Linked DNA regions of Homo sapiens. The protein of the gene in region 1 interacts with the protein of each later gene in a pairwise test. Each region holds a gene or a part of one and is shown in the gene's direction. Other genes may lie near its edges. The genes, in order: GFOD2 and BEGAIN.

The links.
Region 2: the proteins of GFOD2 (region 1) and BEGAIN interact in a protein complementation assay, tested with the Homo sapiens proteins (one large-scale study listed by IntAct).

Annotation. Positions count from the first base shown.
Region 1 is NC_000016.10:67,716,967-67,720,879, reverse strand, and holds the start of GFOD2 (glucose-fructose oxidoreductase domain-containing protein 2 isoform 1 precursor), read left to right. Parts: upstream 1-1,563; 5' UTR 1,564-1,717; intron 1,718-3,913. UniProt on the Homo sapiens protein: Promotes matrix assembly.
Region 2 is NC_000014.9:100,580,874-100,584,686, reverse strand, and holds part of BEGAIN (brain-enriched guanylate kinase-associated protein), read left to right. Parts: intron 1-3,813. UniProt on the Homo sapiens protein: May sustain the structure of the postsynaptic density (PSD).

The DNA of each region.
Region 1 (3,913 bases):
GAATTGGGAGGTTTGCCAGTAAATTAGGGGAGGTTTGCCAGTAAAAAAGTCACTGGAATTGGGAGGTGGTCCAGTAAATTAGGAAAACTGTCTTATGGATGTTCACAGTGATCGCCACCAGCTAATTAAAAGCTCAATCCTGTGTTAAAATGTGTTGCTTAACCCTGCACTTTCCAAACTTAAGTTACTACAGACTGTGTCACTCAGCAGAATCTTACAGGACTATTACTCTATAGAATGCTCTTAGGGAAGAGGTAGCATAAAGGGGAAAATATGGGTTTTAGATTAAGCATAAAGTCCTGGTTCTATATAAGTAAAGCCAGAGTAGGCTCATTTCCCCCTAGACTAGTGGTTCTCAACTGGGAATGATTTTGCTCCCAGGGAGACACTTGGCAATGTCTGGAGATATTTTTGGTAGTCACAACTGGGCTTGGGGTGCTACTGGCATCTACTGGGTAGAGCCAGGGATGCTGCCAAACATCCTACAATGCAGACAGCTCCCCCCACCCCTGCCCAACAAAGAATTATCAGGTCCAAAATGTCAATAGTGCCACTGTTGAGAAATCCTACTCAAGAAGAGTGGAACTCCGAACAATGACTAAGAAACAGATCAAACAGGCACATTTTGACTCTGCCTTCCTTCTGCCTGGCTCTAGAGGATCCAGGAGAGAAAGGATAAAATCCCATCAGAAGAGGGGGGGTTTAGGGGTTACAACTTCTCATCACTTTGGAAGCCTTCCATGCTCCTCACAGAGGTGGTAGGAGTCCTGTCTCCGCTCAAAGCAGGGATAGCTCTGCTGCTAGTTAGCATATCTCAGTAGGAACTGCCTCACGCTTAGGTCAGCTGACATATTCTGTCACCACAGGCTGCTCTGGAATGATGGCTGGGAGATCATCCTAATGCCAGCTGAGTGGGGATCTTGATACTCAGCAGGAGGGTCAGACAAGCAGGGACGGGGGCTCCCCATGCAGATACAAACCCCAATCACATTTCCTACACAGGCAGTTTTATTCTAAGGTCTAACGGCTTCCTTACTCTAGCGGATAGTTTGCTATTTGGTGGGGCATAGGCTTCAGTAAAGAGGCCAAGGGGACTGAGGTTACAGTCTTGAAGAGCACTGATATTTAAGGAACAATCAAAAAACATCCAGAGGAAGAGGAGCCCAGACAGGCACCTGAGAAAACGGAAAAACGAGTCACTGGGGGTCAGGGAGCCAGGAAGTCCGACGAGTTCGAGAGAACTGGCCTTCTGCAGATATGTCCTTGTCCAACACGAAACCGTCTTTCATTCCAGGACAACTGAGGCTACCCACAGCTACCAAAACCTGGTCCCTGACGCCGGTCAGCGGACCGGAGAGAAGCCAAGCTTAGGAAACTGCCGCCTCCGCCGCCGGAAATGAATAACCTGAGCCTCCTAGCCAGGCTGCTTAAGCTCCGCCCCCAAAAAGCGAGCATGCGCAGCTCCCGGCTACGGCCCCTCCCAGCGCAGGCCCATCCCCGTTATGGAGCATGCGCAGTCCTCCTGCCGTCCCGCCCCTCCCTTTCCAGAGCCCCCAGTTCCTTAGAAACCAGGCGGCGCGTTCCCGGTGGCGGCGCCCTGGACTCCCGGGCCCGCGCATCCCCGCCAGCCTTCCTTAAGGCGGATGGGTGGCCCCCGAGACCCCGTCGGACCCATGGTTTCCAGTGCAGCGCGGAGTGGGCGATGCCAGCGTGCCAGGTGAGAGGCGGCCACCGGTGGCGGGTGAGGGCGAAAGAGGGCATGGCGCGGCCGGGAGCGGGCGCCGACAGGGCCTTCTCCGCGGCCCGGCGCCGGAGGTTGGAGGCGTGGACCCGCAGAGCCGGGGTTGGAGGGGGCTTGTTCCAACTGCCTGCAGGCGCGTGGAGTGGAGGGTCGCCTTGGGATTCGCCCTTTCCACCGCAGAAATAGGACCCGCAGGCTTGGTGGTAGAATTATAGGATTTGGGATCCTGGAAGAACCTGAGACATAACCCATCCTTTTACCAGATGCAAAAACCTAGTCTCCCCCGCCCTGTGCCGAGCGGACCACCTGACTGTGTGAGGATGGACGCTTTGTGGATGAGGATGTGTGAGGTGTAGAAGCTCAGACAAAGGGCTCGTGGGGTAGCTGGTTCGTCCCCTTTCAGAATGAGATGGGACTTTTGGGGATAAATCTTTAAGAAACGGGTGTTCAGTTGACAGGTGGAAGAAGGGACACCCCAGAAGGTGCGAGTGGCTCTGCCAGCTCCCATGTGCCCTATGGCCACGTCTCAATGGCCCTGGCCTACCTTTGTATTTGTAGCTCTGGAAGGAAGCAGATGGACTTGAGACAAAAGGTGAAGTGAGGTCTTCCCATCAAGGCCCTATCACACTTAAAAGGTGAGGGAGGAAGAGTGGACAGGGACATGAGGGCTTGGGAATGGTTGTGTGAAGAGTTTACCCTCCAGACTACAGCACGATCTAAAGAACAAGGCAGGATAGAAGAGTTGAAAGCTGTATTGGATAGGCATCAGGGAAGCTTATTTAACTGTCTTATTTATGTTCATTGTTCCCATAATGTTATCCTGAGGGCAAGAAAGTGGATGTCCTTTTAAATGTCCAGAAAGAACTAGGGCAGGGCACCACCTTTGTGATCTGTGGGGCCCAAAAGCCTCTAAAGGAATAGCCCTTAGTGTGTGGCCCTTAAGTTGAAGGGAACAGCATTTAATTTAGAAAAGGAAGGCACTTAAATTTATTGTGATATGGAGCAATATAGAGAAGATGGTTGTTTTTGAGTCGGGGAAGCTAGATTCATTCTTGATAAGGAAACTTATTTCCTTCTGGAAAGCTACACTAGAGAACAAAAGAGTTTTAAGGCCATCCATTTTACAGGAAACGTGAAAAAATTAACTGCTTTGGGATTGGGAGTTTAGAGAACCTGCCTGGACCAAGAGAGGAAATTTTCAACAGACGGTTCTGTTGGTCGAATCCTTATTTCACAGATAAAGATTCTGTTGTGAGAGGTTATCTCTTACCACCTGGTTTTCCCACTTTGCCATGGAATAATCATTGGTCTGGGTCTAATTCTCTATCTATCTATCTATCTATCTATCGAGACGGAGTCTCACTCTGTCACCCAGACTGGAGTGCAGTGGTGCGATCTCGGCTCACTGCAATCTCCGCCTCCCAGGTTCAAGCGATTCTCTGGCCTCAACCTCCTGAGTAGCTGGGACTACAGGCATGTACCACCACGCCCAGCTAATTTTTGTATGTTTAGTAGAGAAGGGGTTTCACCATGTTGGCCAGGCTGGTCTTGAACTCCTGACCTCAGATGATCTGCCTGCCTTGGCCTCCCAAAGTGCTGGGATAACAGGTGTGAGCCACCACACCCAGCCCTCATTATTATTTTTATTTGCTAGGGCAATTGCTATCTGATTTCTATAGTAATACTAGAACACATTGGTAGTAGAACTAGCAATTTTTTAGAAAGCCTCCTCTGACCCAAAACTTAAAAATTAGAACTATGTGATTTTTAAAAGATGGTCCCTGATTCTAATCATCAAAGTCAGTTTGTCCCTAGCTTGATAAAAACTAATTTTCTATTTACATTTGACTTTGCAGCAGGTTTTTCCCCTTGCCCTTATAAGAAGATACATTGGAAGTATAATAATGTTAACAGGTGAAATCAGTTTAAAGAAGAAAGCTTTGGGCCGGGCGCAGTAGCTCATGCCTGTAATCCTAGCACTTTGAGAGACCAAGGTGGGTGGATCACCTGAGGTCAGGAGTTTGAGACCAGCCTCACCAACATAATGAAACCCCGTCTCTACTAAAAATACAAAATTATCGGGGCATGGTGGTGCACGCCTGTAATCCCAGCTACTTGGGAGGCTGAGGCAGGAGAATCGCTTGAACCTGGGAGGCAAAATTTGCAGTGAGT
Region 2 (3,813 bases), on another chromosome or scaffold:
TCTGTGGCCTGAGAGCAGGCATCAGATTGTAGCCTGTGGTGGGAGAAGCTGGCCAGAGGTGTCTCTATTGCTTTAATCATTATAGGAATGAATGAATGAATGAATGATGAATGACTAAGTGTGTGAATTCTACACTCACCTAACATGCTGTACCTAAGCACCCACTCTGCACTGCTCATTGGGGTCACTTAGGTGAGTCTGACACAGACCTTGCCCTCCACGAGTCCACAGTTTGCTGGGAGACATGGACCTTGGCCAGTACGGCAGGAGTCAGGAGCTGCTGGGGCTCTTCTCTCCCCTCTAGCCAGGAAGGGAACTCAAAAGTGGCCCTTGCCTCAGCAGGCCTTGAGTCTGGAGGACAGTACAGCAGCCTCTGTGGTCTGCCTGGGGTGGGGATCAGCCAGGGCCCAGCTCTGAGCCAAGCAGGGGAATTGCAGTCATTGGTTCAATCAGCAAGCCCTGAGCCCAAGTCAGGGATGGAGATGGGTCAGGCCTGGGCTTTGCCTGGGGAAGCCAGACATGGAAGCCTGGTCATCCCACAGTGGGTGCATGCTGGGATTAAGAGGTGCATGAGGTGGAGAAGCAACGCAGGCATGCTGAAGGGGATGCATGGGTGGATGATACTGTATGGAAGGGAAGCACTAGCAGGATAGAGCAGCGGATGGATGGGTAGAAACCTAGAGGGATAGGCTGGGCGCAGCGGCTCACGCCTGTAATCCCAGCACTTTGGGAGGCCAAGGTGAGTGGACCACCTGAGGTCAGGAGTTCAAGACCAGCCTGACCAATATGGTGAAACCCCGTCTCTATAAAAATACAAAAAAAATTAGGTGGGTGTGGTGGTGTGCACCTGTAGTTCCAGCCATTTGGGAGGCTGAGACAGGAGAATTGCTTGAACCCAGGAGGCAGAGGTGAGGTTGCAGTGAGCCGAGATCGTGCCACTACACTCCAGCCCCTGGGCAACAGAGTGAGACTCCATCAAAAAAAAAAAAAAAAAGGAAGAAAAACGAAAGAGAGAGAGAGAAAGAAAGAAAAAAAGAAAAGAAAGAAAGAAAGAGAGAAAGAGGGATAGATGGACGGGAGGAGAGGTTGATGGATGTAAGTAGCAAGATAGGGATGGGTGGGTGGACAGATGGAAAAGTTGATATGGATACAGGACTGGATTGATAGAACAAAATATCAATGGATGATACATGGGTGGAGGGAGGGAGACTTCTGATACACAAGGCAAGATTGGTAGATGAATGGATGGAAGGATCTTTGGATGGATGGATGAAGGAATGGATACATAAATGGATACAGGTAGTGCCTGGATGTTGGGATGGGTGGATGAATACTTGAATACATGTCCATGAATGATGGACAGAGGAATGAATGGACACTGGAAGAGTGAGTGCATGGATAGGTGATGAGTGTATATTGACGGATGTGTGGATAGAGGCCTGAGAAGGCAGCTCAGTGCACAAATGGATACAAAGCAATGGATGCATGGATACGAGACACAAGTAACAGAGGAATGGACAGACATGGAGGGATGGGCAGGCGGACAGATGGAGACGGGAGTGAGAGGACCAGTGAACAGATGAGTGCCCATCAGCGGGTGAGGGACACAGAGACAGAAGGATGTGTTGGTGCGTGGATGGCACCTGTAAATGGGTGAGCGGTCACAGGGGTGGATGGTGAAGGACGGTTGGTTGAATGGGTGAAGCTTCAGGTCACTCATGCCTTGATTTCCCAGATGCCAGTGTTTTGCTCACAGACCCCCATGTCCCTCTGCTTCAGAGACATATACTACGCAGGCGCAGGGTCAGGAGGGGGCTGATCAGACAGGGAGACTTAACCCCACCTTGACTTTGGTGGGAGAAAAGCCAACCCAAACTAACAGCTATTTGGCCTTTCCAGGCCCGCTTTGCCCTGGAAGACCCACTCAGGAAATAAGGAAGAAGCAGTGAGACCTCTTCGAAAGGTCAGCGGCCAGCCGGGGTTCCTACAGGGGCGTCCTTGCCCAGGGATCTCCCTGGAAGACCTGGACAGCTGTGTACATGTCCTATCTGAGGAAGAGAACTGGGGCACCTGTGTTGGGTGCTGGGGACTGGGAGACATCAAGACCATGGCTGCCCTTGGAGATTCTGAGGCCAGCGTGGAAAATCCAGGGACAGCGGGGCAGGTGATTAGGAGCACAAGTGTGCGGATTCCCAGAGCCTCAGTGTCCTCAACTGCAAAAGGGGAATAATAATAGACACTTCTGACTGGGCGCGGTGGCTCACGCCTGTAATCCCAGCACTTTGGGAGGCCGAGGTGGGCCGATCACGAGGTCAGGAGATCAAGACCATCCCGGCCAACATGGAGAAACCCCATCTCTACTAAAAATACAAAAATTAGCTGGGCATGGTGGTGCGTGCCTGTAATCCCAGCTACTTGGGAGGCTGAGGCAGGAGAATCGCTTAAACCGGGGAGTCAGAGGTTGCAGTGAGCCGAGATCGCGCCACTGCACTCTAGCCTGGCAGCAGAGCGAGACCTGTCTCAAAAACAAAAGAGAAAAAAGAAAGAAAGGAAAAAAAATAAACTTCTGTGCTGGGACGAGGGGAAGGTTGGTGAAGGTGACCACACCTCTGCTGGCCTATGCTGCGGCCCCTGGCGCATGCCCGCACCATGGGGGTTTACCCGAGACCCCTCAGAGCCCAGTTTCCTCCTCCGTGAAGCGGGGTAGCTGCTCCTAGCTTTCAGGCCTGCTGTAAGAATGAAGCGAGGTGACGTTTGGCACTGTCAGCAGAAGCCCGGCATGCCTGCCCACTCGGCAGGGTCCTCCCAACATCCTGTGGCCTGGTCTTCCTGCTCCAATCCCAGCAGACAGTGGGCAGCCTCATGCCCCTTCTGTCCGAGCTGGCAGGGGCCAGCTTTCCAACCACAGGGGCAGTGTGTGCCAGGCAGCAGGAGAGGGGCTTGGGCATCTGGAGAGGAAACGGGTGTGAGTGCCTGACCTTTGGGGTTCTGTCCTGGGCCTGACATGCCCAAGCCATGTGACCTCCGACGGGTCACTGCACCTTTCTGAGACCCTGCTTCTTTTAGCAGAAAATAGAGCCTTTGGCTGTCCTGATGCACAGAGGCGGGTGGGGATTTGGGGTGATGACGCATGCACAGCACGGAGCTTGGCACGCAGGATGGGCTTGGGAAGCAGGACTGAATCAGATGAGTCAAGAGGCAGGGGCTGCGGTGCCAGGAGCCGGAAGCCCCTCCAGGAGAGGTTGTCCAGGCTGCTGGTAGGTGAGCAGGTCCAGGCCGTGAGCCCACGGTAGCCGGCAGCATCCTTAGAGCCTCAGGCCCAGGCGCCTGAGAGCCAGCAGGTTGTTATGACAACGGAAACTTGCCTGATGCAGCCTGAAACTCTGGAAGCAGCTCAGAGGACTGGTTGGCCAGAGCCCCCAGAACACTCCTGCAACCATGCGTGCTAGTGAAACGGCCACATCAGAGCCCCAGTGCTAATGAGTCCTGAAGTCCCTTGCTCATGCCACTTCCCAGCACTGCCATGGGCTGAGTACTGCCCCATGCCCACCTGACAGATGAGGAGGGGATGTGGCTTGCCCGCAGGCCTGTTGGAGTGTTGGAGAAGGGATTTGAACTTGGATCTGCCAGCCTCCAAGTCTCTTTCCCACTGGTAATAGGGCAGGGGCTGAACGGCTGCTGCTGGGGAAGGGCTGTCCGGGTGTAGAGGGGCGACTGTCGGGGACCATAGGGTGGGAGGAGGACACTGTGGCCTCCCGAGAGCCTGAGATCCCTCCCCTATATTCTCATCCTGTTTCCAGTCACAGTAGGCCC